Regions from separate parts of the Homo sapiens genome. Here regions 1, 2, 3, 4 and 6 are each reported to be linked to region 5. The links are microRNA targets in miRTarBase. Many come from high-throughput screens and were not tested one by one. Region 5 holds a microRNA gene; each other region holds the end of a gene's coding sequence.

Evidence for each region. The annotated mature microRNA hsa-miR-1238-3p reads CUUCCUCGUCUGUCUGCCCC and lies in region 5 at 2,595-2,614, shown strand. An mRNA with a match to its seed (bases 2 to 7 or 8) in the 3' UTR can be bound and repressed. Matches are read on the target gene's strand: a 7mer-m8 pairs with bases 2 to 8, a 7mer-A1 pairs with bases 2 to 7 and ends in A, and an 8mer does both.
Region 1: miRTarBase lists PPP1R3E as a target of hsa-miR-1238-3p. Seed matches in the 3' UTR shown: 7mer-A1 at 2,886-2,892, 7mer-A1 at 3,881-3,887 and 7mer-A1 at 4,719-4,725.
Region 2: miRTarBase lists ENPP5 as a target of hsa-miR-1238-3p. Seed matches in the 3' UTR shown: 7mer-A1 at 3,171-3,177.
Region 3: the mRNA of MID1 is a reported target of hsa-miR-1238-3p. Seed matches in the 3' UTR shown: 7mer-A1 at 4,422-4,428, 7mer-A1 at 4,157-4,163 and 7mer-A1 at 1,711-1,717.
Region 4: miRTarBase lists SLFN12 as a target of hsa-miR-1238-3p. The part of its 3' UTR that is shown has no 7-base or 8-base seed match.
Region 6: the mRNA of C4orf36 is a reported target of hsa-miR-1238-3p. The part of its 3' UTR that is shown has no 7-base or 8-base seed match.

The regions. Positions count from the first base shown.
Region 1 is chr14:23,297,246-23,302,334 of GRCh38, reverse strand. PPP1R3E (protein phosphatase 1 regulatory subunit 3E) reads left to right here. Exons shown (of 5, transcript NM_001276318.2): 1 at 1-175; 2 at 477-1,037; 3 at 1,471-1,577; 4 at 2,794-2,934; 5 at 3,418-5,089. The coding sequence ends at 899. Among named protein-coding and RNA genes, the nearest start is that of PPP1R3E, 3.1 kb to the left of the region's middle. RefSeq lists silencers at 1-199, 280-339, 350-779 and an enhancer at 840-1,029.
Region 2 is chr6:46,156,722-46,161,721 of GRCh38, forward strand. ENPP5 (ectonucleotide pyrophosphatase/phosphodiesterase family member 5) reads right to left here. Exons shown (of 5, transcript NM_001290072.2): 5 at 2,464-5,000. The coding sequence ends at 4,605. Among named protein-coding and RNA genes, the nearest start is that of ENPP5, 12 kb to the right of the region's middle.
Region 3 is chrX:10,444,724-10,449,802 of GRCh38, forward strand. MID1 (midline 1) reads right to left here. Exons shown (of 10, transcript NM_000381.4): 10 at 833-4,993. The coding sequence ends at 4,645. Among named protein-coding and RNA genes, the nearest start is that of MID1, 170 kb to the right of the region's middle. RefSeq lists an enhancer at 4,216-5,079.
Region 4 is chr17:35,406,871-35,411,959 of GRCh38, forward strand. It overlaps SLFN12 (schlafen family member 12), which reads right to left. Exons shown (of 4, transcript NM_018042.5): 4 at 4,052-5,057. The coding sequence ends at 4,468. It also overlaps the pseudogene LOC729839. Among named protein-coding and RNA genes, the nearest start is that of SLFN12, 23 kb to the right of the region's middle. RefSeq lists a silencer at 1,181-1,394.
Region 5 is chr19:10,549,589-10,554,677 of GRCh38, forward strand. It overlaps MIR1238 (microRNA 1238), which reads left to right and starts at 2,534; the gene lies at 2,534-2,616. ATG4D (autophagy related 4D cysteine peptidase) reads left to right here. Exons shown (of 10, transcript NM_032885.6): 7 at 2,309-2,387; 8 at 2,457-2,533; 9 at 2,617-2,736; 10 at 3,297-3,830. The coding sequence ends at 3,479. It overlaps KRI1 (KRI1 homolog), which reads right to left. Exons shown (of 19, transcript NM_023008.5): 19 at 3,497-4,693. The coding sequence ends at 4,363. It also overlaps the pseudogene RNU7-140P. RefSeq lists enhancers at 4,492-4,661, 4,682-4,731, 4,762-4,841.
Region 6 is chr4:86,883,657-86,888,745 of GRCh38, reverse strand. It overlaps C4orf36 (chromosome 4 open reading frame 36), which reads left to right. Exons shown (of 5, transcript NM_144645.4): 3 at 471-625; 4 at 853-988. The coding sequence ends at 986. Among named protein-coding and RNA genes, the nearest start is that of C4orf36, 6.2 kb to the left of the region's middle.

The DNA.
Region 1 (5,089 bases), not on the chromosome of region 5:
CCCAGACACCCGCAAGAGAGTGCGTTTCGCCGACGCACTGGGGTTGGAGCTGGCTGTCGTGCGCCGCTTCCGTCCCGGTGAGCTGCCCCGGGTGCCCCGCCACGTGCAGATCCAATTGCAGAGGGACGCCCTCCGCCACTTCGCGCCCTGCCAGCCCCGCGCCCGCGGCCTCCAGGTAGGCGGCGGGGGCACCTCCCCTCCTGGGGACCTCCTCCAGTCGGCCGCAGCGGGCTTGTGGGAGTGGATTTGCCAAAGAGCACCCATCTCCATCCCATCCCTGGGCTTGCGCCTGCCCATCCCTTTTGGGGACCCCATCTGCGAGTGGCTCTAGGCCACCCTGGCAGCTGGGCCGCACTCTGCCGGCCTGGACGCCGGGGTCGGCCTCTGATTGGTCCAGTGCCTTGCTCTGACACCGCCCCCTGTCTCTCCCCTCTCTCCGCCCTGGGCTCCCTCCTCCCGCTTCTTCTTTCCCCCAGGAGGCGCGCGCCGCCCTGGAGCCGGCCAGCGAGCCCGGCTTCGCCGCCCGCTTGCTGACGCAGCGCATCTGCCTGGAACGCGCCGAGGCGGGCCCGCTGGGCGTGGCCGGGAGCGCGCGCGTGGTGGACCTGGCCTACGAGAAGCGCGTGAGCGTGCGCTGGAGCGCCGACGGCTGGCGGAGCCAACGCGAGGCGCCAGCCGCCTACGCCGGTCCGGCCCCGCCCCCGCCGCGCGCCGACCGCTTCGCCTTCCGCCTGCCCGCGCCGCCGATTGGGGGCGCCCTGCTCTTCGCCTTGCGCTACCGTGTGACAGGTCACGAGTTCTGGGACAACAACGGCGGCCGTGACTATGCTCTACGTGGGCCCGAGCACCCGGGCAGTGGCGGAGCTCCGGAGCCGCAGGGCTGGATCCACTTTATCTGAGACGAGGCGCCTGCGGCCGACGGCGGAAAACACCAAAGGCACCCGGGGGCGGGGCGACCCGATGTGGCGGGGAGGAGTAGGAGAGACCAGGATTGGCGGGAGCGGTCCAAGGGAGTCAAGCCGGGGAGGGCGAAAAGGGTGGGGAAATCAGGGGCGTGGGGGCGTGGGGGCGTGGGGGCGGGGGGAGTGAGCGGAACCAAAGAAGCTCCGGGAGATCCGGGTGTTAAAAGCTGGTTGGATGTGAGTGGAAGGAACTCAGAATATAGGAGGAAGGAGACCCGAAACGGCACCGGAGGGATTATAAAAAAAGGAAAAGAATGGGGATGATGGTGGCCTTCCCTTCAGTGAGTGGGCTCTGGGAGAAAGGGAGGAGGTCCATCAGGCCTAGGCGGTTGAAGAAGGTTAAGAACCTTTTGGAGATGGAGGAGGTATGATGTGAAGTAGCCCACCCAGTCGAAGGCATTTACATTGCTGGCGCATTCCCTCTTCTTACCGGCCTTTTCCACCTCAGATCCCCCTGTCCTACCCATCCTAGCTTTAACTCAGCCATAATTGCCTTGCTTAATCCCAGGAACCTGGCCACTGCTCCTTGGTCCTTGGCATTATGACGGGATTCCCTTGTCACCTCTGACAGTTCCTGGCTGCGGTGTCCGCGGACTGGCTGGGGAGTGATGACAGGTAGCTATCAGAGCTCCAGCCTCCAGGCAGCTTTAGGGATTAAAACGGAGGCCAAAGCAACTCCAGACCTGTTTTTATAGCCAAATACTGAGCCTCAGGGGTTGTACACTCAGGGGCTTCCAGGAAAATGCCAGCCTTACTTTTCTGGGGTGCCTTTTAATAACCTCCAAGCACTTTGTGGACTGTTTGTCGAGGGACGGTGAATCAGAAGAATCACTATTCTGATTTCCTTTGTCTCCGAAGAGGAAGTCCCTGACTAGCTATATAACTTTGGGCGAGTTACCTCTCACTTCTTTGTGCCCCAGTGTTCTCCTTGGGAAACTGGATTTAGGTTAGATGACCTTTTAAGGCTCCTTGTATGATATTTTGTGATCTGTACATGGCAGAGTATAGATTAGGAGCCAAATTTTCCAACCTAGTGCTATGGTTCAGAATACATAGCACCCCAAGCGTCTGGCTGGAGCCGAGGATGGGTCCTCCAGTTTTTGGCACAGATGTTCCGGAGCCCAGGAAGCATCCCATAACCAACCTTCAGCCCCACCGCCACCCCCAGCGTATTCCAGAGCCGCTTCCAAACCACAGCCTATCCTCTGCTCCATTTCACTCTTGTCCTCACAGACTTTCAGCCTCCATGCTCTGAGACAACTGTGGGTAGGTACATCTCTGTTGGTGGAAATGATGCTTAAGAACCCCAAAGATTAAAGGAAACAATGTTAAGGGCTTTTGTGAGGATAAAAGATAATGGGTATATGGAATAGAAACATTTCAAATGAAGAATCAAAGCATTTCAATCAATCCACTTGGTTGTAAAAAAAAAAAAAAAAAAAAAACAAAAACAAAAAAACACCAAAGCAACTTGAATAGTAAATGGCACCAGAAGATGGCAGTCTGCTCCATAACCAGAGCAAGTGCAGTGGGAAAGCTGGACTCTCATACCCACTCACATTCATGCCTTATATAAGCCTCTCCTCCTGGTTAACCTTAACAGGGGAGTGATTCCTCTGCTGGTTGCTGTTTTTCCTTTTCTCTTACCCTATTCCTAACCTCTTTGCTTCTCTCTTTCTTTCCTTGTGTCTCTTCCTTCTCTTTTCTTTTTTCTTTTAACATATAGGGTATTTTTTTCTTTTAACATATAGGGTATTTACCTTCATTTTGTTTATTTCCATTTGTTTCCTTCTTCATTCATGTTCATCTCTGCTATTCCTTCTCCCTCCAGAAGGGATGGAAACCCTATTTTCTTTTCTCCAAGACCATGGTTGGTCTGCTTCCCTCACTCGGGCTCCTTGACAGTCTTCTAGAAGAGAGAAGGAGGAAAAGAAGCAGTTCCTGATGTTACAAATGAACAAGGATCTCCCAGGTAACCAGCTCCCCACACCCATTTCTGTTACTAATTTCTCAAACAGAAATTTCTGGTTCCCCTTCTTCCTTATCACTGAGTGAAAGGGGACAGGCATGCACATGTGCCCATACATGCATTCAGAATAGAGTGTGGGGGCAGGGGCGGTAGTTCATTCCTGTAATCCCAGCACTTTGGGAGGCTGAGTTAGGTGGATCATTTGAGGTCAGGAGTTCAAGACTAGCCTGGCCAACATACTGAAACCCTGTCTCTACTAAAAATACAAAAATTAGCCGGGCATGGTGATTCATGCCTGTAGTCCCAGCTACTCATGAGGCTGAGGCAGGAGAATCACTTTAACGGGGAGACAGAGGTTGCAGTGAGCTGAGATTGCACCACTGCACTCCAGCCTGGGTGACAGAGTGAGACTCCGTCTCAAAAAATAAAAAAAAAGAATAGAGTATGAGGCTTGTTGGCTTGTTACCATGCCCATCCTGTCCACAGCCTTAGTCTTTGAGAAAAGATGGCTGAAAGAGAGGAACTCTCCAAGTCATTCCGCAAACAAATGCCCATTTAAACATCATCCTTGTCTTGTGAAGAAAACAGGAAGAATGTCATGTACCATGTGGATCACCTTCAGTTCAAAGTTGCAGCAAAGTGAAGAAAGAAACTACTGGAAGCCACCCAGCAATGCACTGTTTAGTCATCAATTAGGAGCCCATGGGAGGATAATAGGGAGACTGGGTGGAGGCTCAGTGTGTAATAATCTCTTGTCTAATGTATGTGTGTCACTGCCATGTTGTATGAACAATAGTGAGGGCTCACATTTACTTAACACTTGTGTGCGCAAATCTGGGTTTTTCTTCCTTTCCAGAACTATGACTCGATCATAAAATCTGTTTTGTTTGCATGCATGCCCAAAACAACCCTGTAAGTAGAACATTGTCATTATCTCTGTTTTAGAGATGAGGAAACAGGCTCAGAGAAGCTCAGAAATTTGTTCAAGATCGCACAGCTAGTAAATGGCAGAAGTAGGATTGTGAACCCAGGGAATCTCCAGAGCCTCTGTGTAACCATGATGTTATATTTTTTTTCCTCTTTAAAAACAAAATTTAAAACCTTGCTATAATCTCTTATTAGGAAATGATCATAGTTTCTGACTGTGCTCTGCCTTCCCATCCTGCCAATCTCCTGGACTGGCTTGGAGAAGACAGGGGGCCCCCGAGCTTCATCTGTGACTCGAAGGAGTTTGCTGCTGTCTCCTGTGTCAGTGTCCCATCTATGCAGGATCAGCACAGGACCCCCCTCACCTTCCCACTTACACTCTAGCCTTTCCATACATTGGAATTCTCTCCTGGCCCTAGCCAGCGCTCCACACCTGTTGGTGTGCCACCTCCCTCCCTCTTCCCCCACTGGCCTTGAACAGGCAAACCCCCTAATGTCGCCACTAGGTTGGGTCCGTGACTAGGACACCTGCTAGAGGGTCTGTGCTTGGGCCTTTTCTAGGAATCCCGATGTTACTGGGTAAGTGCCAACTCTGTGGGCAGAATGCTAATGATAATCCTGTTCCCTGACCTCTTTCTCAGAAGTACCCTGGCTCACTCTCCCCAATCTCAGCTTTATAGAACAACATTTTGGTCTTGATTATTCCCATATCAAGCTGCCCCAGGGCTTCGGTAAGCTGTTAGTTGCCCCACTGCCTCAAGGCTGGGTCTGGCTGAGCTACTTCTTAGGCACACAAATAGTGGGTGTCTCCTTGGAACCTGACACAAAACTATCAGTGCTACCAAGCCTTGTAAAATAGGGAGGAAACTAATATTTCTTGAGTGGCTTCTGAGTGCCTGGTGCTTTCGCGGCTCTCTGGAGAGATTCCTTGCCCTGATGGCTTTGGTGTGTACTCCTCTCCCAGGACTTCAGCACTGAGATTTTCCCAACCCCCTGGCTTTTCCTCACCTTGGGTTGAGTTGATCCGGCACTACCACAAACCCCACCATCTGCAAACCAACCAAGATTAGGCAGTATGCCCTTTCCGTCTTGCACTGCTCTTCCAAAACTTCCATCTGTATTTCTCACACCCTCAGTAAGCAAAGCTGAGTGTGCATGGACAGAGCTGCATCCACTGCTTTCTCCCAGCGGGTGCAGTCTAATCTGACACGGGGAACACTAGGAGTTTAGC
Region 2 (5,000 bases), not on the chromosome of region 5:
CATGATTTCAGGTAAGAATCTGCTGTCATCAGACTTGGTGTTCTATAAGTAATGCATTGCTTCTCTTTGGCTACTTTCAAGATTTTTCTTTTAAGTTGTTGAGTGGGGGGCCCTTTTTAACAAGTTTACCTACAATGTACCTAGGTGTGGATTTATTTGGGTTTATTCTGTTTGGGCATTCACTCAGCTTCTTGGATCTGTAGATTTGTGTCTAGTCAAGTTGGAGAAGTTTTTAGTCATTATTTTGTCAAGTAGTCTTTCAGCCTCCCCTTTTACAACCCTGGTGATATGGAAGTTGGATTTTTTTCTTATTGTCCCACAGATCACTGAGACTTGTTAATGTTTTGTGAATTCTAGTGTTCTGTACTTAAGTTCACTGATTCTATCCTGTACCAATTCCATTGTACTATTGAGCCTATGTAGTTTTTTTAAATGCCACTATATTTTCAGTTTTATAATTTCCATTTAAAAAATAGCTTTTATTTCTTTGCTGAGATTTTTTACCTTTCATTTTAAAGAGGATTTGTGTTGATCATTGAAGTATTTTTATGACAACTGTTTTACAATTCTTCTTGTATGATCCCAACATATGAATCACTTTGGTGCTGGTGTCAATTTTTTTTTTCTCATTGTAGTTGTGATTTTCTGGGTTTTAGGTATAACAGGTAATTTTCAGTTGTATCCTGGATATCTTATATATTATGTAATAAGATGATGAGTTCCCTTTACATTTTTTATTTTAGCAGAAAGTCACACAGTTTAGGTTTAGCATGTAGATCTTGTCCTACTTTTGTGGGCTGTGATTCCAATGGCAGCTTAATTTTCACAGCCTTTGGAGTGCTATTGGATTATGGTCTGCTTGGATTGTGTGGTGCTGCTGGAATTCCCACTTGTCTCTGCTGGTCCTGCCTGAGGAAAGCAGAAGGGTTTTCCCCAGGCCAGCTGCCAGGTATCTCTTGGTAGGGAAATGGTGTAGTGGGATTCCTTTATTGGTGCGCCTTGCACATTGCAAAGTCTCTGGGTAGAGGAGGAGAGTCTCAGGGCATGGGAACAAAGAGGTTCCCCAGACTGTCTGCTGTAGCTTGGTCTCTTTTGCAGATTTTGTTTGTCCACCTCTATGACTCAGTGGAAGAGTGTTTCAGTGGTGGGAAGGAGAATGCTCCTCTTGGCTGCTCTTTAATGGGACTCCCAATCAATATTCCTAGTTGGAGGGTTATGGCAATTCCCCTTGCTGATGACATGGGCTGCCCTGATGTTACCAGAGATTCTTCTTTGATCCAGGGGAGGAATAAACCTCCCTGGGCTGCTGTCTTGGTAGGTGGGGGTTAAGAAATGCAGGCTCTGTGTGGCCTCCTTCTGTTAGGTGAGAAACACGTGAAGCCCTGCCGCTGTGCTGTTTTTCCAGCCCAGGTTCCCTAATCAGCTCTCAGCCTTATTACCACCCTTCAGAGTCTCTTGCACCATTTCCAGGCTCTATAATTATGCTTAGTGTGGAGGAACAAGGAAAAGCAGGACCATGCTATCCTGTCCTGATTGGAAGTCAAAATGCATTTTAAAACGTCTTTTTAAAAAGAATCAAATTGCCCACAAGGTTATGAGGAATTACCAGGGTGACATTCAGAGAAGACTGAAATCCTGAAAGAGTCTAGCATTCAGGACTATTTTGTCCTGGGGCATTGCCCTTGGGCATTGGCCAGTCTGAAAGAAAGCCATAAGCCTTGTGTAGCTGACTGTTAAAAGTTGGACCAGAGAGCCTGCCAAGGGTGGGAACATCGGTTAACCACCTCCTGCTAGGGGTAGGATCTCAAAGGGCTACCTTAGGAAGAACCGGAAGTAAACCAACTTAGACTGCAGCTTGACTTTGAGTATAAACTCAGTCATGGAACCTGGGTCCTGCCTCCAGCTCTGGCACTAATATGTCATGCAAATTTCACAGCTTTGCAAGAGCTTTTGTTAAATCAAGGGTTGAATGATCCCTTAGAGCTTTCCCAACTCTATGATTATCAAGTATGTTTTTCAGCTAACGAAAAACAGAAAAAAAAAATGTGAGAACTAGAAGAGCTGGGGTCTTTCATTAGATTTTCTAGAAATAAGAGGTTCTTGTAAGAAACTAAGACTAATAATAGGATACTTACAAGATCACAGGGCATTTTGAAAAGCAATTTAAACTTAAACTGCAGGTGATGGAGAAGAAATTGTAAAATACAAACTGAATTTTAAAAAATCCTAACAATTAATAAACTTTACAAAATGGCTCATGTAGGAGGATGTTGAGAAAAGATGGGGGCACAGAGAGAAGCTCCATTCCTCTGACCTTTCTAAAATTCTTACAATTAGTAAGATTAGCTAGTCTTTTATTTCCATGTACTAATTTGAGTTCACTGCATACAAAGCTTGACCATGAAGACATGCAGGTAAGACAAAACAACAACAAAAAGATGTCAATGATGATAAGTGATGTGATTTTCCCAGAAAAGTTAAAAGTTTTATTTTTCTTCAGGTAAACTCTCCTATTTTACAGGAAAATAAGTATCTGTAAGTAAACCATCTGATAATCAAATATTTATATATGAATTTACTTTCTTACTACTAATGTAATAGCACCTTCTAAAATGAATTTAATGCAATTATTAATTTAAATGGACAGATAGCATAATAGTAATGCTCTAAAATGGACCAATTTCACCTTCCAGTCATTATGCTGACATTTCAATAATACAGGGTAAGTTCATAGCTACAAAGCAAGCCAACATGAGTGCTCATGTATTCTGAGATGTCTAATCCAGAGTTCATACTTCTGGGGAGTTTGCTACCTACCATATACTTTCTCAGCTTTTTAATCTATAGGCCATTTCCAATTATTTGATTCTATTCTATTAAGAGGTTTTATAATGAAATGGGAATTATGTGCCAACATTCCTTATTGGTATTATCATTTTAAAAAATAAGACATTCACCAAATTTTAGGAAGCACTTAAATTTGGTTAAATTTTTAACTATGTCACTTTAGTTCTTCACATCCCATTTGTCCTTTCTTTCTGGAATAGTAATACAATTTTACCTACTCATTAGCCAATTGGTACATATATATACATGAAATCACAGTACTATCCATGTGTCTGTAAAATGCTATTTTCTTCAAGGAAAGTCTTTCTTTTCAGGGCTTCCTCTTTCCTCTAAGAAGCCACATGTAATACTATGCCTCTCCCAAACTTCTTGATTACTTAGAAATCTAAAGCACAGCCTTAGGTTGTTGGAATGGAAAAGACTGAGATGACCAGGCAGGTCAAAAGTACTACCTTGGAAGTAGAAGTCTATTTGTGAACTTGGATTCATCTTTGATTCCACTGAGCACCTGGTAGGTGGGTATTCACATATTTCTTGAAACAGAGCTATATCATCTCGGCTCCCGTGTTTTGATACCTGTTACCACAAAGAGTTATTTTGCTGCTTTTTCTAGTATGCACACTTTACCACTGTTCTGGGTGTCTTGTAAACATCTCACATGTGGTCCTAATTTTTTTTTCCAGGCTCCACACAGTTCTTTTCAAGGATCGAGTGGCCAATATTTTACCTAATATGGTTTGTGCTCTTTCGCAACTTTGAATCTTCAAATGCTCAAATCTAAAAGATGCTTGTGCTCTGTTATTATGCGCTACCAGAAAGAAAACATTGTTTTATCCAATTTGATTTTTAATGTAATTAATAGTGATTTAATTTTCAAAGGAGCAAATAATTACAAACAAGAGAAAACATTGCTGAGATGGTGCCTGGTTGCTTCTATTCAGGCCATTGCTGAACTATATAGAAAAAAAGTATATTCATGGTGTCTTCATTATTATGAAAATCACAGTAATATGACTCATCAGGAAATCACAATAATTTTATGACAGAAACAATATATTTAGAACGAATCTGTCAGTATTTGACTCTCTTTTGAGGGAAAAATAAATGAAAACCACGTTCTCTGGAAAGAAATAAGACAAGAAATGCCCACAGTTGCATTCTGCTGTTGGGAATACATCTCCAAAATTCAAGGTTCAAAGGTTATCACATTTAATTTTCAACACTTATCACCTTCTTCTTCTCTCAATTTATGGAGATAGATTTCTACGTTCATTATTCGGGATTATTAGAAATTTCCTTCAGTTTGAACAATGCGTAACAAGTATTCTGTGACATGGGTGCAAAAAGTTGTCATTTTCAATCAAGTTATAAGACATAACTGTGCATAAAGTGCATTTCAAATTAAAGTACCCATCAGGAGAGAAATTTAAAGTGCAATACATAAGGTACTTTACATAGTGCAAAGTTGCTAAATATATACATTATCTGCGCCAAGTCCAAATAAAGCAGGATCTTATCTATCCCTATGCTACAGTGAACAATGGAGACATACTCTCACATCTTTATTCCTTTGCAGGTGTAAGTATTTTGGTCCGTGTGTGTGTATGTGTGTGTGTGTGTGTGTGTATACCTAAATATGTAACTGCTTAATGGTTTCTGCAAATGTTTGGAACTGGTTTCCCAGAATTTGAAACCTTTAAACACTGACATAATTATGGAATCTCCACTTCAATATGCAAATCCACTTCAAAGTAACATTAGGCTTGTAATAATGGTTGAGCTATTTCAGCATGCATATCTTGTAAGGCAGGTATTTGACTGTGAATTAAATGCTTAATGAAAATTACAAAAAATACAATCACTATAATGCTGCCAAGAGAGACCCCTATGAAATAAGGGTATGACCCCTCTTGGTCATATTCTGCTGGTTTAACACTACCAGGGAGGAGTATAGTACTCTGTGTATAAGGGACCACCCTTGGCATTGCTGAATTGAGCAGATCCTGGACATTCCAGAATGATCCATTGTGTGGCATGGCGGTGATATTGAGGAGGTGGCATAGTAGTGGGTACAAATCTGTGGAGTTCATGGCTTCTTTTGAGAAATTCTTTCTGAAGGCAGGACCATGGGCTAAAAATATTGGATGCATATC
Region 3 (5,079 bases), not on the chromosome of region 5:
CATGCTCTTGTGCTCTTGATTTTCTCATCCCTCATCTTTCAGGATGGGATCCAGGAATCCTCATTTGCAGAAAAGATGGTTTAAATGCTCAGTCATGTTAAGAATCACTGCATTACATCCTGCTCTCTCTAAAAGCACATTGCCTTGAAAACACATCTCAGGTGGTAAGTGCCTTTCTATATGGGCTATGAGACTGGAAGCAGCTCCCCAGGGCAGTGCTTCACACACTTCCACTAGTATCAAAATCCCCTGGGGTGACTGCTAGTCCCACCCCAAAGATTCTGATCAGCAGGTCTCGGGGGAGGCAGGAGAACTGACAGTTCTAACAAGCTCGCAGGTGATGCAGATGCTGCAGATTCCTGGACCACACTTTGCATAGCACTGACCAAGACCAAAGGCTTGCATCTCTAGTGAGAGAAAGTCAGGTCCATGGGATGGGGTTGAGGATATATGTATGGACCAACTGCTAGGATTCTCCTAGATCACACTGTAAAGACTCCCAGTGCTCTGTTCAAATAATCATTGCTCTTCTCTTCCTCACCCCATCTATAAGACTTGAAATCAAGCAAACCTTGTTCTGGGTTTCCACTTCTATATAGGCTTTCTTTTATTGTGTTTTAAAAATTCCCTGGAGAATATTTTGAGTGTTGCAAAAGAATTGTATTTTGAATAGGGAAAGGCAAATAGTGGATGAGAGACAGTAAAAGAAAATGAATTATATGTCATAAAGTAGTATGAATAAATGGTAGATGTTGAATAAATATTTGTCAACATCATAACTGCAAAAACACAAAATGATGAAAAGGCAACAGAGACAGGCAGAGACAGAGGGTCTTGGTGCCACAAAAATGATTTTATTTTGAACCAGAAAGGAACAGCAATCAAGACAATAGTCAGGGCCGAGGGCTTGGCAGTGTGACTTAAGTACCGGGGATTGAATTTGTCCAGGTGCAAGGAGTGACATAAAGAGAATCAATTTTTCATGTCCAAGCCAAGCTGATACAGATGATGATACTTATCAGTGATTCCCATTTACACAGGCTTGGATTGCTTTTCAGATATCAGATTTTTGGAACTATTTTATAAATATTTTTAAAGGTGATGGAGCCACTGGAGTGTAGGTGAATTGGTGCCCCTCCCCTTTTCTTTTTGGGTGTATCAAGCATATAATCAATGACAGGAAAAGTGAAAGGTTTTTATGAGAGTTTTGCATTAAAAGAAAACCAACGATCAAGTTTCTACACTGCAGCACTGTTGATATTTGAGCAAGACAACTCTTCGTGGTCGGGGGCTGCGCTTGCACTGTAGGATGTTTAACGGCGTCCATGACCTCTACGCACTAGATGCTGGTAGCTTCCCTTCCCCGGCTGCGACAACCAAAAGTTGCCATTGCATTGCCAAATGTCTCCTGGGGGGCAAAATCGAGCACTGGTTGAGAAGCGCTGTTTTCAAAAACATCCTCCTGCCCCCATCATTGTCTTGGTGTGCTTTTTACCATTTTATTAAGATAGACCAGATGGTCAACTTCCCAACACCAAATGCACATGTATGCCAGCATATATGCGTGTCTCTTTGCAGGTATCTGCATGTTCCTGGAGCTGAGATGGAATTCCACGGTCACTGGAGGACGTTAGTTCAGTTCCTCAGCAAGTTTAAGGTCAATATATCAGTACCGTAATAAAAAAGCCTGTCTGTATTCAAGCTGTTTCTTTTCCTCCAGCAGAAACCATCGTCAATATTTGCAGTCAGTTTTTGAAGTCACTTTCTTTTAAAGCTGGAAAGAATCTTCACCCAGGCCCACCCTCATCTTAATCCACTATTTAGAGTCCTACTTGAATGATATCGCCAGCAACTTTCAACTTTGGATCCAGATTTCTTTATTTGTATCCACCAGGAAGAGAGGTACCACGTTTCTGAGTTCTTTTATGAGCACTCGCTATGTAATTTGCAAGGCCCAGTGCGAAGTGAAAACGCAGGCCCCTTGTTCAAAAATTGTTAAGAATTTCAAGACATCAACAGCAGAGCATTAAATCAGGCTTAGGGCCCTTCTGAACTCCTGGGCTCTGGGCATACCCATGACACCAGACCTGGCAGTCTTGGTTGGTGCTGCATTGATTTTGTTGTATTAATTTAATTGGCACTGCCATCTCTTTTGCCCCTGTATCGCAGTGTTTCCTGTGGTGAGGACCCCAAATAATAAAATACTGTGACCTCAATCAGTTTAAAGAGAATGCAAAATTACACTGCAGCAAATTTTTACAGCATACATTTTTTAGACTTTCAAAAAAAAAATTCACACGGGAATCTTTTCTACATCATTATAGTAATTAAACACGGTGGCCTTTCACCATATACATATTTTCCTGTAAATATGACAACCTGGAACTAGTAACTGCTACTATCCACAATGCTTTTAAGTTAGCCAAGAGTGAGACTTCCACAACAAAATTATGACATAATCTCTCATGTCCTTATAAAAATAGCCAAACATACCCTAAATGGCTTACTGTGAAAATTTGAGTAGTAACTTCTTAATATTGAAAAACATTATTTTCATGGAAATATTGTCCTTCTACTAAGTGTTTTATGTTAACATCATAAGGCAAACTGTAGCATTTATTGGTACCTGGAGACCGTGATTTTAAAAACTCAGAAGCTGAGTTTTAGACCCTTTTATTTAGAACCTGTTAGTGTACAAAGTGCATTAAAATATCCATTATCCAGTTACCCAAAATGTATGTAAAAATTACTGAGACAACCCTTTCAGTTTACTCAGAGAAGGCAAACACACATTGCTTTTATATTGTAATAAAAAGAAAAACCTATAAGGTTTCCAGAGAAAGATTGTTTTTTTTCCATTGAGGCGTCCATCTTTTAGATGTGAAATTGTCTTAGGTATCTATCAAAATATTCATCTGGGTATAAATAATATAGTAAATATATAGAATCTATCTGTTAAGAAAAAGGAGAGTGTCTGCTAGGGAAGAGGATGGAAGGACCCAGGAAGCTGGCTTGGCCTCCCTTGAAATCCAGATTTGCAATCACATGACCTTTGGCCACGTGATGCTGAAACAATGAGTTCATTGACTTATTTCAGGGAGGCAGTTGGTTGATTTGGTTAAAAACAAAATAACTAAAAACAATGTCTAAATCCACTAGTCTGCTCAGTCAAAATGGCTGACCCAGTATCCCAGGTAAATATTTTAGCAATTGAAACCATTTATAGAGGTCATGCCCTTCATCAAACTAGAACCAATGCCAGAGTTCTGGGCCAAGAACTGCTCAAGAAAGCCTTAATTCATGGACCATTCCAACGCATCAGATTGGCATGCAAAGAATCCCAGCTGACATTTTATAAGCAGGTTCCTGAATAACGAGTTTGAATTTTTTTTTTTTTTTTTTGGTCTTACAACTCTATTGTAAACTATACTAGACTATAGAGGGACTTCTACATCTTTCAAGATGTGTTTAATAAAGGTCTGTTTATAATAACTTTTGAGGCATGAATCTAGCAAATAGTACTTTATACAATGTCCCTTGTCATTACCAACTCATAAATATTAAGTGTTTTTCAGTGACTTATGTTTGGATGTGGTAGTGCTGATCAGGGCCATGTGCTGATGTCCTGGAGAGCAAAATCAATCCAAAGTGGTGCTGCTATTTGTGACAGAACATGTTTATTTACTCAGCCCCGGAGACAAAAGGAAAATTGATATGGGGGAGCGGGAAATAGGAGAACTATTAAATGTAGTGAAGAAATTTCACAGGTCTAAAGGAACTATTAAAAGGAAGGATAAAGTAGATTCTATACTATAAAACAGAATCCTACCTCTGATAAAAGACAAATCAGCCTGAATTTTTGAATAATCAATAGGATTCAAAATGACTATTTTCAATTGCAATCTCATTCTTAATGTTCTTCCAGAACCCTTAACCCTGAGAGAAGCAGGGCAAAATGTGGCCAAAGGATTCAGAACCTTTCTTTCCAACATTATCCCATCAGCTATGAGAAGGTAAAGATTTAGCCACGGCAAGGTCCGAGGTCCAAAATCAACTCTTTTCATTCTCTGTCTTGCTCTCCATTTTAGTTGATCTGATACAACTTTTTGACATCACAATTAAAACACTTCAAATTAAACCAGAGTAAGAAAGCCTGTTTCCTCCCCTACTAGGTTCAAACACATCCTGTTATGCACCATCGAGGTGAGAAGACCTACCATGGGATCATCATGGGATATCAGGTAAGAAGATGAGTAACATACAAAACTACAAAAGTTTTTGTTTTTTTGTAAGCCCACAGATTGTGATGAAATGAAGGTTGTAAATAGCTGATAAACTTATGGGCCTCTTAATGTGCAAAACCAAGTAATTCCTAAAAGTTGTAATCCTGATTATGTTTCTCTTATAAATAATCTATAGATTTTCCTCTAAATACAAAAAAATTAAAGAAATTATTAAAGCCCGTACTTAATACAAGACACAGTAAAAGGAGAGGAATCTCTTGTTTTGAGCCCTATCTGAGCCGATTTCGGGACACTTCTGGTGAGATTTCATTACACTCATGAAGCCTGTGCTTTCTCAGTCCCCTAAATAGTGGCCTGAACCTTACTGTTCCCCAGAAAGCAGCTCCATGTGGCCAGACGCTCACGGCAGCTGCTCTGTGCAGTCCAAATGGTCTGGGATAGGGAGCCCAGTGATAATCGTCAGACACTTGTTCCACACGGTGAAGGTGGGGCAAACAGGCTGCGCAAATGCGACGTCGAAGGTGTAGAGGTGGATGGAGTTCAAAGCATCATAAAAGGCGATAGAGCCGTTATCATAGTCCAGCAGGATGCCCACGCGCCGGAGGTGGGGGGCAGGCTCAATGGGGATTTCCTTGCTATTGTGTCTCACCACCCAGTTATTGTTGCAGCGGCAGAGCGCCCAGGAAGCAGAGTTCTTCCCAATCCATTCATGCTTCGGGGCTGATTTGTAAGCAAGACCAATGGCATACCTGCGGAAACAAAACAGCAACAACAAAAACAATGAGCCATGTTGCACATGCACGTTAAATCCGTTCTGTGGTCCTCAGGGGTTATA
Region 4 (5,089 bases), not on the chromosome of region 5:
AAACTATATGAAAACTTAAGTTGGTATTGTTAGATGAAGACAGGTAAGCTAACACCAAAAGAACAACTGTACTAAATTTTAACACTATTCTTTAATAGTTCCATTTTCCTGAGTTTGTGTTTGTTCTTTGGCATTGGTTTAGGATATAATCCATTTTTTCAGAAGGCGTTGCTTGCTGGGGCCAATTTGGGCACCATGCTAAATCTGGAAAGAGCATAAAGCTTCAAGAGGGCGAAGCAAAGTCTCTTGTATGTAATTATTTTTCTCCAAGATGGAAAGAGCAACAGGTGCACACTCCAGTGTAGAAAGACATCTATTAATTGGCTGTATCCGAATTACATACTGACTAGAAATGCTCGTTTTTAACTGCACCTGTTTGGGGGTGTCAGAACAAGGAATTCTTACAGAAAATGTCCTTAGCCTGGCTCCGTGTACCATCAATGACGATGATTGTAGAAGGATAAACAGGAGAATCTAATATAAATTCTTCCAGATTAGCAGCTTCTTATATTAGCCCCTGGATATAACATTAATGTACCAAACTTCCGGCAAACAGTTGAAAGTTCAGGATCTCTTTCTTCACTGAAGCGACGACCAGTCTTCACTTTGCGCTTGTCCTGGGGGAGGCATGCTGCTGGTAGAGGAACTGTCCGCAACATTTTGTCTTCCTCTGCTGGATGCTGAATTATGCACAAGTAGGTAGAGATATGCAAAGGGTGCGCTGGGAGAAATGGACAAAAACACACTTTCTGAGGCCGGCTTGCAGCGGCTGCACGCAGGCCTCAGCTCCTCGGCTCCACCTGCAGCTCCCACAGCCCGCCCGCACTAGCGTCGTCCGCCTCTGTTCCCAGGGCAGCCGTCGCCAGCACTGCGCCGCCCTCCCGCTGCTCCTTGTAGTTTGGCGTCTGAGACCTTGAGGCCCCAGGCGGTCGCGCGACGGGGTCGCGCCTCTTTCTGCGACTCCATGGCGGACACTCTGGTCAGGCCTTCGATATAATATTTCAATATAGACTTAAGGAATAGATTGTATGTGTACATATAGATATGGATATAACATAAGTAACTAAATTAAAACAAATGTCCATAATTTGGCCCAATTAGAAATCCAGAATGTATATACCAAAGAATTTATATTACAAAAAGATAAAAGGACATTGATTAGATTTTTTGTCTCTACAACATAAGGTCTAAATTAACTTTAGCATTTGCTAAAATATACCAGCTGACATACTTCATGGACTCAATCAATACTGGGGCTCCAATTATACTTGGAGTGGGCCGTGGTGGCTTACACCTGTAATCCAAGCACTTTGGGAAGCCGAGGCGAGTGGATCACCTGAGGTCAGGAGTTCAAAACCAGCCTGGCCAACATGGTGAAACCCTGTCTCTACTAAAAATACAAAAATTAGCCAGGCATGGTGGCAGGTGCCTGTAATCCCAGCTACTCGGGAGGCTGAGTCAGGAGAATCACTTGAACCCGGGAAGCGGAGGTTGCCGTGAGCCAAGATAGCATCATTGCACTCCAGCCCGGGCAACAAGAGCGAAACTCCTTCTCAAAAAAATACATATTATACTTGGGGTTCTCATTAAATTTAAATATTGTATGCCCTCTAATCTTAAAAAGGTAACTAAAGTTAAAAAATATTTTGGATAACTATCCCTCACTTTACTGCTTTGGTTGAATTTCCCATAGTTTTGTACCCATTGCTTTAAAGTATCTCTTATTGGACACAGACTCTCTGACACAACAAATAATAAACTAAAGTTAAAATTTTGGCACTTAAAAAATGGCTTGATAAAATGGGACCCTATAAATCCCTCTTTAAAATAGTTAATATGGCACAATTTAAGTTAGAATAGGCCCTTCAAGGATTAAGACTTGTTATATAGAACCTCATTATGAAAGGGGATAATTATCCCCACTGCTTCTCATTAAACAGCTCAATTTTGCCTATTCGAGCCCTTTGGGAGGCCAAGATGGGAGGACTGCTTAACCCCAGGAGTTGAGACCGGCCTGAGCAACGTAGTGATACCCTATCTCTACAAAAATTTTAAAAATTAGCCAGGTGAGTTGGTGGTGTCTGTAGTCCTAGCTACTCAGGAGGCTTAGGTGAGAGAATCTTTTGAGCCCATGTGTTCAGTGATGCAGTAAGCTATGATCACACCACTGCAATCCAGCCCAGCCAACAGAGCAAGACCTTGTCCCTAAAAAAAAAAATAAAATAATAAAAAGTAATGGAGATTATTGCCTTCTCCTGGAGGTAGTTGTTTCCTATTAGTCAACTCCTTGACCCACTCGCTCCCCAGTGCCCTCCCCTACCACTCCCTGAAGCTTCCCCCCGCCGACCTCTTGTCTTACATCTCTGACCATGACCACCCCTTCCCCTTGGTTATACACACATACACGAATGTACACATACATTATTAATGTATCAGCCACACTGTTCAACAATATGACTGCCAGACCTGCCACTTTGATATATATATAATTCAGACTTTTAATCCACTTTACAACTCCACCAAGATTATACTAAAGACCCCCCAAAATTTCAGATCTACTTTCTTGACTAATGATGCACACATGAAAAACTTACTGATGGGCCAGATTGCAAGGACTCCTCGTATATCCACTTGTGTTCTTCCTTCTTACTCTCATAGTAAACATTTTCTAGGCTGTTTAGGTGAGCTTATGCCTCACTCTCTAAATACGTCCACTATTACTACCCCAGGTTTCTTGCAATGATGCCAAATAGGCACGGGGCCAATGACTCTTATTGTGTTTTCTTATATTCTGTATTTGTCTATTTGGCATCCAGGCACCTGGAGGCTTCATCAAAGTTCACATTTTCTTTTGCTGATGTTTCAATTTATCCTACAAAACTATGTTCCATGTAGATCTGGCCCATCTTGAGGCTGCTGTTTCTGCATTCATCCTCCCATGGTCACATTTCTTGGCCAACAGAACCACAGAAACTGGTCTGCCATGAGTTAACGTTTAGTCCAAATCATTTTTCCACTTTGGCTCTGCTTCAAATGGGGCTGGGCTGGTGATACTGAAGACAATCAATGCACCTATGAATTCCAGACAATGGGCTCTTGTCATTTTCCCAATCTTTCCTCATCGCAATGTTCCACAGCTGCAGTTGTGCCAAGGCCTCTGAGTCCCAGTGGAGCTCCTTCAGTGCACAGTTCACACAATGGTGAACTGGCTTGGAGATGCCAAGAGGAGTTCTGGTGCACACAGTGTGTGATGATGATGGCCTTGCCTGTGCCCAGGTCACCCATACCGGCAGCTGGTACAGGCTGACACACTGTGCTGGCCACAGTTCAGGGCTGGAGAGAGACTCCAGGAGTGCAAGTATGCTCTCGTTTTAGGTTCTTCATTTTGATTCATCTCTTCATTGGCTGGATTTCATTGTAACATAGTTTTCAAGAAGGTAGAAGAGAACTACGTTCCGTTCCCTATATCCTTTGATAAGAATGTCTGCCTATTTCCTTTATAGTCAAACATCATCTCGTTTGGCAAAATATGTGTTAGTAAAACTTTTCTCAGAATACTGAATGCATTGATCGACTTCCTCTGGCATTGGACACAGTGGTGGAGAAGGCTGAGGCCCTGATGGGTAATTTAGGCTCTATTCTCTGTTCCAAGATCCCACTGAAGGTCTTAGGCATGAATTCAGAACACCCAGCCAAGGGTGTATCCCACTCTGCTGAGCTTCATCTTGGTCCCTTAGCTCATCTTAGATGAGTGGGAAATGCCAGACCCTGGTGCTCCTTCCTCTTGTTGATGAAAACTCTCGTTGTCTAAAAGAGTTTCTACTTATACCTTGGCTGCTTTCCTTCAAATCTTAGTTAGAGAGGATTTTCCATATTTTGTCATCTCACGCTTCTTTATTCAGAACTGCTTGTAGAAAAATAAAGTAACCATTCTTGTGAGTTCTTTAAAGGTGCTAGCTGACCAGTTAGGAAATCCACAACCCTTCCAAGTAAATAGTGTGAAAGTAGCTCAAGAAGATCCAGAGAATTCCTGGAGTTTTGTTTTGAGAAAATGAGTTTTGCCTTCTTATTCATTCCCACTGTGGAAATTCTGAGTTTCATCAAGGATAATCTTTTGTAAGTTATAATTGTTTTCTAGGTATATGCTGGGAGATTTTCACTGTTGTCATTAAGAATAAAAGTGTTGCAATTTTCCCAGTTCAAGCATGGAAGAAAATTTATTCAGGAACTACAGACAGAGTAAATAATACTGTGCACAGACGAGTTAACAAATTAATTTTCCTAATATCCCTCAAACAATATCTGTGAAGATTATTTAGGGAGAAGTGAAAATAGACAAAACCCAATTATCCAACATCACATTAAGTTGCTTAACTTGCAAAGTTTTCAAAGAAATATTTTCACAGAATTAGAGAATGTTATCAAATATATAATGAAAAATATCTCAGTAGCCCAGTCCATTTTCCATCAGGTGAGCCTTCGACAAGATTTAAACATCTTTTTATCATTCTTCTGAAAGCAATCTATACCGATTATCTGGTATAGATTTTCTGCAAAGGAAAACTGGTCTCTCAGAGACTTGAGTCTCTTTAAGGCTTTAAAAAGGGCTTTCAGCAAGTATTTCCTTCTTGTAAAATAGTAGGATTCAGGGTAAATTACTTGCGACCTTAAATCATACTGGCAGCTTGTCATGCCTTCAGGGCTCAAGTAGAAGATCTTTGTCATGACACACACTTTTTTAGTGTAACCACCAATTTTTGCCAGCTTCTGCTTTAAGGTTAGGGCAGTTTGTGTAGAATAGCCTTTAAACTCCTCATCCTGTACCATGTGGAAGGTGTATAGGACTGGAGGACTGTCCTGGGAAATCAGAAGAGCATCACAGAGGACTTTGTGGTTCTCTTGCAAGCCCAGATCCACAGACCAGCTCCTAGAGAAGATCAGTGAGCCCTTTCTGACAGAGTCCATTTCTTCACATATTAATTGCTTAAGTCCTTCATGTTGTAAGAACAGTTTTCTGCAAAGGTTTTCTGGAGTATACGTTATCCTTCCTGATAGCCCTGAATAAGGAAATAATAATAATAAATTATAA
Region 5 (5,089 bases):
TGTATTTTTAGTAGAGACGGGGTTTCGCCATGTTGGCCAGGCTGGTTCTCAAACTCCTGACCTCAGGTGATCCACCCACCTCAGCCTCCCAAAGTGCTGGGATTACAGGTGTGAGCCACCACGCCCGGCCCATCCCTTCTTTTTTTATACTATGCAGCACCTGCTATGTGTGCTCCCCACTGTCCCGACTGCTGGGGATTCAGAGGGGAACAGAATAGGCAGGAGTTCTGAGTGTGCCTGCTGGGAGCAGACGTTCTGATGGGAGGATGCTCAGCAGTGGCTATGTAACCAAAGTAGCATCACTGTTTGGAATGAAGCCAGGCACAGTGGCTCAGGCCTATAATCCCAGCACTTTGGGAGGCCGAGGCAGGAGGATCATTTGAGACCAGTCTGGGCAACATAGTGAGACCCCCATCTCTACACAATTTTTTTTGAAAATATTCGAGTCTCACTCTCTTGCCCACGCTGGAGTGCAGTGACACCGTCTTGGCTCACTGCAACCTCCGCTTCCCAGGTTCAAGCAAATTTCCTGCCTCAGCCACCCAAGTAGCTGGGATTACAGGTGTATGCCACCACGCCCGGCTAATTTTTGTATTTTTAGCAGAGATGGGGTTTTCCCATGTTGGCCAGGCTGGTCTTGAACTCCCGACCTCAGGTGATCCACCCACCTCGGTCTCCCAAAGCGTTGGGATTACAGGCATGAGCCACTGCACCCAGCCTCTACACAACTTTAAAAAAACAGTAACCCAATGAAGGGCAGATGAGGGTAGCAGCAGAGCCTAGAAAAGCGCCTCTGCAGCCACCAGGCAAATGAGGAGCCAGAGGAGAAGTGCTCCAGGCAAAAGGAACAGCAAGACAGAGACCCTGAGGCTGGAAAGTCCCCTATGTATTTGCATCCGAATAAAAGCCAGTTTTCCCAGTGACCCACAGAGCCCGGCACTATTTGTCCACACCACCTTCTTGATGTCGGGATATCCCCCACCTTGACCTCATATCCTCCTCCCACACTCTGCTGCAGCCACAGGGGCCTCCTCACCTATTTCAGACACTCCCACCTCAGGGCCTTTGCGCTTGCTGCCCCTGCTGCTTGGAGCACTCTTTCAGCAGTGATGCATGTGGCTTTTTTTTTTTTTTTTTTTTTGAGACGGAGTCTTGCTCTGTCACTCAGGCTGGAGTGCAGTGGCATGATCTCAGCTCACTGCAAGCTCCACCTCCTGGGTTCATGCCATTCTCCTGCCTCAGCCTCCCGAGTAGCTGGGACTACAGGCGTCCGCCACCACTCCTGGCTAATTTTTGTATTTTTAATGGAGATGGGGTTTCATTGTGTTAATCAGGATGGTCTCGATCTCCTGACCTCGTGATCCTCCCGCTTCGGCCTCCCAAAGTACTGAGATTATGGACATGAGCCACTGCTTGGCTCCTGTTTTAAAATATTTTTTGCGTGGGGGGTTTTCCAGTGAGAACCAGAAAACCTGAGACAAATTCTAAAAGAGCTGTAATGTTTGACCTCTTTACTTAAAATCACAAGGCTCCCTTCCCTCTTTTATTCTTTTCCATATAGTTATCACCTCTAACACATGAGATAAATCATGTAATTGGCTGGGCGTGGTGGCCCACGCCTGTAATCCCAGCACTTTGGGAGGCAGGTGGATCACCTGAGGTCAGGAGTCCAAGACCAGTCTGGCCAACATGGTGAAACCTCGTCTCTACTAAAAATACAAAAATTAGCTGGGCGTGGTGGCGGGCGCCTGTAATCCCAGCTGCTCGGGAGGCTGAGGCAGGAGAACTGCTTGAACCCAGGAGATGGAGGTTTCGGTGAGCCAAGATCGTGCTACTGCACTCCAGCCTGTAATCCCAGCACTTTAGGAGGCCGAGACGGGCAGATCACCTGAGGTTAGGAGGAGTTCCAGACCAGCCTGGCTAACATGGTGAAACCCCATTTTTACTAAAAATACAAAAAATTAACCCGGGTGTGGTGGCGGGTGCCTGTAATCCCAGCTACTTGAGAAGCTGAGGCAGGAGAATCGCTTGAACTTAGGAGGCGGAGGTTGCGGTGAGCCAATTGGGCCACTGCACTCCAGGCTGGGTGACAGAGTGAGACTCCGTCTCAAAAAAAAAAAAAAAAAAAAAATTCATGTAATCATCTTCCTTGTTAGTCTCTCACACTAGGATGTCAGCTCCTGAGGGCAAGGGTTTTGTGGTCTTGATCACTGCTGCCCTCCAGAGGCTGGGTTCTCACAGAGGAGGTGTTTGCCAAGCGTTTGTTGAGTGGCTGCCTGACAGCACCTGCCTACCCTCCTCCCTGCAGGAACTCCTGCGTTGCGAGCTGTGCCTGGGCATCATGGGTGGGAAACCGCGACACTCACTGTACTTCATTGGCTACCAAGGTAGGCCCACCCCCTCCTCACTCCTCCCACCCCCCACCGCACCCCCACTCACACCTGCACCCCCTGCAGATGACTTCCTGCTGTACCTGGACCCTCACTACTGCCAGCCCACTGTGGATGTCAGCCAGGCCGACTTCCCCCTGGAGGTGAGTGGGAGCCCCAGTGTGTGGTTGGGGCCATGGCGGGTGGGCAGCCCAGCCTCTGAGCCTTCCTCGTCTGTCTGCCCCAGTCCTTCCACTGCACCTCGCCCCGCAAGATGGCCTTTGCCAAGATGGACCCAAGCTGTACCGTGGGCTTCTATGCTGGAGACAGGAAGGAGTTTGAGACACTCTGCTCAGAGCTGACCAGGGTGAGCAAGAGGAAAGCTGGAGTGGGGTGAGGGGGGCGGTTGGGCAGGGCTGGGGGTGAAAGAGGAACAGAGGCCTCGAGTCCAGCAGAGCTGGGGTGCTGCTTCCAGGCTAGGGGTCCTAACCTGGGAAATGTGAAGAATGTCCACCCCTGAAAAGGTGGGAACGCCAAAGCCCACTGTTAAGGCATCATCCCTTGGAGGCAGCTGTATCCAGGGGCTCAAGTGGTGGGAACCCTCCCTGTCTCTTGGCCCTGCTGTCCGACCAGGACTCTACCCTTATGGGGGCGAGAGATGGCCACCAGCCATTCTGGGCACCCACCCTGTGGTCACTGGAAGGGAAACGCAGGTTTTGCAGCAAAAATCCCAGGACTGTCAGTCTTTGGCTGAGCTGGGTCACATGCTCATGGCTGAGCCAATCACTGTGGCCAGGGGATGGAAGGTGCTGATTGGCTGCTCTCTCCTGGAGAGGTGGTCCTGAGAAGCACCTACTAAATAAACCTGGGCTAAGGAATATGGCTTGGCACTGTTTGTGGCTGACCCTGTCTCCCTCTTCCCGCCAGGTCCTCAGCTCCTCCTCAGCCACAGAGCGGTACCCCATGTTCACCCTGGCCGAGGGCCATGCTCAGGACCACAGCCTGGACGACCTCTGCTCCCAGCTCGCCCAGCCCACACTCCGGCTCCCTCGCACAGGGCGGCTCCTCAGGGCCAAACGCCCCAGCTCTGAGGACTTTGTGTTTTTATAAAGGGAGGGGATGAGGGGAAAGATACAACACTATTTATTTTTTTATTTATGTCATGTCGGGTGTGGGATCTTGAGCTCTGGCAGTGATGATGGTACTTCCTGTTGTCAGCCCCTCAAGCCCAGCTGCAACCAGTCTGGGGCCATTCAGCCAGGGACAGAGCCCACAGAGCCCATACACCTGTCTCCCACCAGCGGGGCCCTCCTGGCAGGGTAGGGAAGGAGGACCCCGGGCACCCCCCTCAGGGCCTGACTCACGTACTGTAGTTTGCACTGGACGCCCGGGCCCTCCCTGTCCCAAAGCCCCCTTGGGGGAACTGTGGCTGCTGGGGGCCAATAAAGCTGTGTAACTTGATCGTGGGTGTGGCTGGGCGCAGCGTTCTGAGGGGATGTGGGGTCTGGGAGGTGTCTCGAGGTGAGAGCTCCAAGTCACGGGAAGTTTAAGTCAGCCTCAGTTTCCACATCCATAAAATGGGACGACTTCCTTACCCACAGCTACACGTGTTTTTTAATTTTTTTTTTTTTTTCAAGAGACAGGGTCTTGCTTTGTTGCCCAGGCTGGAGTGCAGTGGTGCAATCATAGCTCTCTGTAGCCTCAAACTCATGGCCTTAAGTGATCTTCCTTCCCCAGCCTCCTGAGTAGCTGGGACTACAGGCATGTGTCACCACATTTTGTAGAGATGGAGTCTCGCTAAGTTGCCCACGCTGGTCTCCAATTCCTGGGCTCAAGTGATCCTTTCACCTCGGCCTCCCAAAGTGCTGGGATTACAGGCGTGCCTGGCCACAGATGAGAGGATCTCTGCAGCAGATAGTACTTGTGGGTGCGAGACCTGTCCAGGGCTTGATTTGAGGAGAGGAGCCTGAGGCCCCTGCCTGCTCCCTGGTGCTCAGGAGCTGTTCTTGGGCCCCTGTTGTTTCCTCCGCTGCCGGCCCAGCTGGCGGAAGTGCAGCCGTTTGGGGTTGAGGCCAAAGGCCTGCAGTCTCTGGCGGCTGAACTCGCATCCACCAAGCATCACAGTGGGGCCCAGCAGCCGTGCCTTCTTGGCCCTCCTCCGCTTCTGGGGGGCTGGCTTCTTGTGGGGTGATACAGGGGCTTCCTCTTCCTGTGCTGGGGGACTCTCCGGCCCCATCAAGCTGCCATCAAGGGCTGGCAGCTGCCTCTGTGGGCCGGCTTCATCTCTCTGTGGCTTCCCTGTGGCTTCCGCAGGTGTCTCTGCCCTGAGGGAGAAAAGTCAGGGCTCAGCCCAGGCCTGTCAAGATCAGGCCCATTCTTGAGCACGCATGCCCCATTTTACAGACAGGGAAAGGAGGGGCATAGTGAAGCAGCCGCACAGCGACCGAGGGCCTGCCTGGGATTCAGACCTGGGTTTCAGGCCAAAGCCAGCGCTTTTCTACGGAACCCAAAGACTAGATTGTGAGGCTGAGGATTCTGGTATTTGTGCCTGGGCCTGCCCTAAGCTAGTCACATCAATTAACTCATTTTAGCCTTTTTCTTCCTTAGAGACAAGGTCTTGCTGTGTCGCCCAGGCTGGAGTGCAGTCGCGTTACCATAGGTCACTGCAGCCTCCAACTCCTGGGCTCAAGCGATCTTCTCGCTTGAGTCTCCCAAAGTGC
Region 6 (5,089 bases), not on the chromosome of region 5:
TTTAAAGGTTCATAGTGGTTATTTTGAATTTGTAGTTTGGAATTTCATCCCCATTCCCAGATTGCACACTCAAAACCTTAGTCTGTGCCAAGCACCCTGCTCAATGTATGATTATGCCCTTCTTTCCTTCTTCAATATGACCACATTTTTATGAGCTATAAAAGACTCTGGAGCTTACAGTTCTTATCTACATCCTCTTACATGGAAAGAATGGATTGACTTCATGGAGGCTGAATCAAAGTTCCTGGTGTAATTTCTGGTCATTGTTCAGTATTATCTCTATATTAGTTAATATAAATCTCCCTCTCCTGTCTGGAACTACAACTCTGGAAAATTCTGAACATCTCCCCCTCCACCCATAAACCAAAATGTCTAGTGGCAAATGGAACTGAGAATTAATGTCTTCTACATCTCACATAGTAGGTGCTTAATCAATATTTATTGAATGGATTAATGAATTTTTGCCCCAGACAGGAACCTTGGGATATTGCATTGCTTGCAAAGACCTGGTCCACAAACCTAGCCAATATCAAGTTGCCTTTCTTGGAAGAAATTTCATTTGGTGGTTCTGTGCAGCTCACAAAATGTACCACCATTAAAGATGGACTGCTCCCTTCTGCAGAATGTAAGTTCCTTAAGTTCTGCTTTAATAAGTTATAAATTCAGTGTGCCATTTGCTTATCAGAGAAATGTTTAAATCTGTGTATTTACACCCATACCTCCTATCTTTGTAGCTCTGTCATCTTGTTTATTATTCAGGCATATGGATTTTGCTGTATGATATTCAGTTTTGACTTAGTTATGCCTGATGAAAAATGTATGTCAGATTGTTTTGTGTATTTTCTTTTTCAGCTATCAAACTCGAAAGGGAGTATGAAGTGAAGCGTCTTTGTAAACTGAAGTGTCAAGAAAATACATCTAAGGAAATTCAGCTTCTCCTGAGGGAAAGGCCAGCCGGTTTGAGAAGACCTCTTCCATCTAAATGACAGTCAGTTCATGATTGAATCTGTACTCTGTGTCTTGCATCCAAAGGGCATGAAGGTCTCTGGACCTTTCACTATGTATAGTTCAGGGCAGATATTTGAATGCCCACTGGTGGATGGGCCACTGCCCACAGCTGTGGGTTAGTACCCAGTTCTGACAGATCTTCTGAGTCCCTGACATACTCTTGTTCCTTGTGTCACAAACGACAGCACTGTAAGTAGATGAAAATGCATTTGGAGTTGAGTCGTTTGTGCTATTCATTTTAATTTTTGTAAAATTGCACTAAAAGAAGAGGAAATTTCTTCAGCTGCATTGTTTTCAAAAGACATCTTAAATATGCATCTTTGAGATCCCAAGGAGGGACCAAAAGAAGGCAAGAGAGAAATTCTCTTAAAAATGATAAACTGAAACATTTCATTTGGTTAAGAAAAATAATAGACTTCATTTTTAGTACCTCCCTAGTTTCCAATTTTCTTTTTTTTAAATATATATATTTTTTATTGTACTTTAAGTTCTAGGGTACATGTGCACAACGTGCAGGTTTGTTACATATGTATACATGGGCCATGTTGGTGTGCTGCATCCAGTAACTCATCATTTACATTAGGTATATCTCCTAATGCTATCCCTCCCCCATACCCCCACCCCACAACAGGCCCCCGTGTGTGATGTTCCCCTTCCTGTGTCCAAGTGTTCTCATTTTTCAATTCTCACCTATGAGTGAGAACATGCGGTGTTTGGTTTTTTGTCCTTGTGATAGTTTGCTGAGAATGATGGTTTCCAGCTTCACCCATGTCCCTACAAAGGACATGAACTCATTATTTTTTATGGCTGCATAGTATTCCATGGTGCATTTGTGCCACATTTTCTTAATCCAGTCTATCATTGTTGGACATTTGGGTTGGTTCCAAGTCTTTGCTATTGTGAGTAGTGCCACAATAAACATACGTGTGCATGTGTCTTTATAGCAGCATGATTTATATTCCTTTGGGTATATACCTAGTAATGGGATGGCTGGGTCAAATGGTATTTCTAGTTCTAGATCCCTGAGGAATTGCCACACTGTCTTCCACAATGGTTGAACTAGTTTACAGTCCCACCAACAGTGTAAAAGTGTTCCTATTTCTCCACATCCTCCCCAGCACCTGTTGTTTCCTGACTTTTTAATGATCCTCATTCTAACTGGTGTGAGATGATATCTCATTGTGGTTTTGATTTGCATTTCTCTGATGGCCAGTGATGATGCACATTTTTTCATGTGCCTGTTGGCTGCATAAATGTCTTCTTTTGAGAAGTGTCTGTTCATATCCTTTGCCCACTTTTTGATGGGGTTGTTTTTTTCTTGTAAATTTGTTTGAGTTCCTTGTAGATTCTGGATATTAGCCCTTTGTCAGATAAGTAGGTTGCAAAAATTTTCTCCCATTCTGTAGGTTGCCTGTTCACTCTGATGGTAGTTTCTTTTGCTGTGCAGAAGCTCTTTAGTTTAACCATTCCTTCTGAAACTATTCCAATCAATAGAAAAAGAGGGTATCCTCCCTAACTCATTTTATGAGGCCAGCATCATCCTGATACCAAAGCCTGGTAGAGACACAACCAAAAAAGAGAATTTTAGACCAATATCCCTGATGAACATCGATGCAAAAATCCTCAATAAAATACTGGCAAACTGAATCCAGCAGCACATCAAAAAGCTTATCCACCATGATCAAGTGGGCTTCATCCCTGGGATGCAAGGCTGGTTCAACATACGCAAATCAATAAACGTAATCCAGCATATAAACAGAACCAGAGACAAAAACCACATGATTATCTCCATAGATGCAGAAAAGGCCTTCGACAAAATTCAACAGCCCTTCACGCTAAAAACTGTCAATAAATTAGGTATTGATGGGACGTATCTCAAAATAATAAGAGCTATTTATGACAAACCCACAGCCAATATCATACTGAATGGGCAAAAACTGGAAGCATTCCCTTTGAAAACTGGCACAAGACAGGGATGCCCTCTCTCCCCACTCCTATTCAACATAGTGTTGGAAGTTCTGGCCAGGGCAATCAGGCAGGAGAAAGAAATAAAGCATATTCAGTTAGGAAAAGAGGAAGTCAAATTGTCCCTGTTTGCAGATGACATGATTGTATATCTAGAAAACCCCACCGTCTCAGCCCAAAATCTCCTTAAGCTGATAAGCAACTTCAGCAAAGTCTCAGGATACAAAATCAATGTGCAAAAATCACAAGCATTCTTATACACCAATAACAGACAAACAGAGAGCCAAATCGTGAATGAACTCCCATTCGCAATTGCTTCAAAGAGAATAAAATACATAGGAATCCACCTTACAAGGGATGTGAAGGACCTCTTCAAGGAGAACTACAAACCACTGCTCAACGAAATAAAAGAGGACACAAACAAATGGAAGAACATTCCATGCTCATGGATAGGAAGAATCAATATCGTGAAAATGGCCATACTGCCCAAGGTAATTTATAGATTCAATGCCATCCCCATCAAGCTACCAATGACTTTCTTCACAGAATTGGAAAAAACTACTTCAAAGTTCATATGGAACCAAAAAAGAGCCCGCATTGCCAAGTCAATCCTAAGCCAAAAGAACAAAGCTGGAGGCATCACGCTACCTGACTTCAAACTATACTACAAGGCTACAGTAACCAAAACAGCATGGTACTGGTACCAAAACAGAGATATAGACCAATGGAACAGAGCCCTCAGAAATAATACCACACATCTGCAACTATCTGATCTTTGACAAACCTGACAAAAACGAACAATGGGGAAAGGATTCCCTATTTAACAAATGGTGCTGGGAAAACTGGCTAGCCATATGTAGAAAGCTGAAACTGGATCCCTTCCTTACACCTTACACAAAAATTAATTCAAGATGGATTACAGACTTAAATGTTAGACCTAAAAACCATAAAAACCCTAGAAGAAAACCTAGGCAACACCATTCAGGACATAGGCATGGGCAAGGACTTCATGTCTAAAACACCAAAAGCGATGGCAACAAAAGCCAAAATTGACAAATGGGATCTAGTTTCCAATTTGCAATGAAACATCATTGAATATTCACATGTGGTGCTTTAAAGTAGCAAGTAGAACTCACTTTGTTTTTGTTCTCCTAAAAAAAATTGTCAGGCTGGGGGTGATGGCTTATGCCTATAAATCTCAGTGCTTTCGGAGGCTGAGGTGGGAGACTCGCTTGGGCCCAGGAGTTTGGGACCAGCCTGGGCAATATAGGGAGACCCGGTCTCCACAAAAAATTAAAAAATTAGCTGAACATGGTGCTGTGTGCCTGTAGTCCCAGCTACTCAGGAGGCTGAGATGGGAGGATCCCTTGAGCCTAGTAGTTTGACGCTGCATTGAGCTGTGATCATGCCACTGCACTCCAGCCAAGGCAGCAGAGTGAGAACGTGTCTCAAAAAAAAAAAAAAAAAAAAAAATTCAGTCTTTTTCCTTCTGCCTAATTTCTTATTTTCTATCTGGAATGACCCTGAAGCATATGGAACACACATACTTGTGTGAAAGTGACATGAAAATACACAGAAGGTCTTATGAGGAAAACACAGAGTGGATGGGGGATGGGGAATTGATCAACTGGAAAGTATTGGATTTGGATGAATAATTTTTCTAGCATTTGAATCCAATAAAGCACACTTGGATATTAATGTTACATTTGAGCACAGTTTAGTATTTTTTAGATGATTCAGTAGGCATTTTAGGATCTTCTGGTATTTTTTTTTTCCCACCCAGGCTGGAGTGGAAGTTTCACTGTAACCTCTGCCTCCTGGGTTCAAGCAATTCTCATGCTTCAGTAACACGAGTGGCTGGGACTACAGGCATGCACCACCACACCTAGCTAATTTTTGTATTTTTTAGTAGAGATGGGATTTCACCATGTTGGCCAGGGTGGTCTCGAACTTCTGACCTCAAGTGATCTGCCCATCTTGGCCTCCCAAAGTGCTGGGATTACAGGTGTGAGCCACCGCGCCTGGCTGATCTTCTAGTATCTTAGCTTCATTTCATTATGAAAGGCACTGTGGCATACTGTTTAAGAATATAGACTTTAGACCTGGGTGCCTTTCT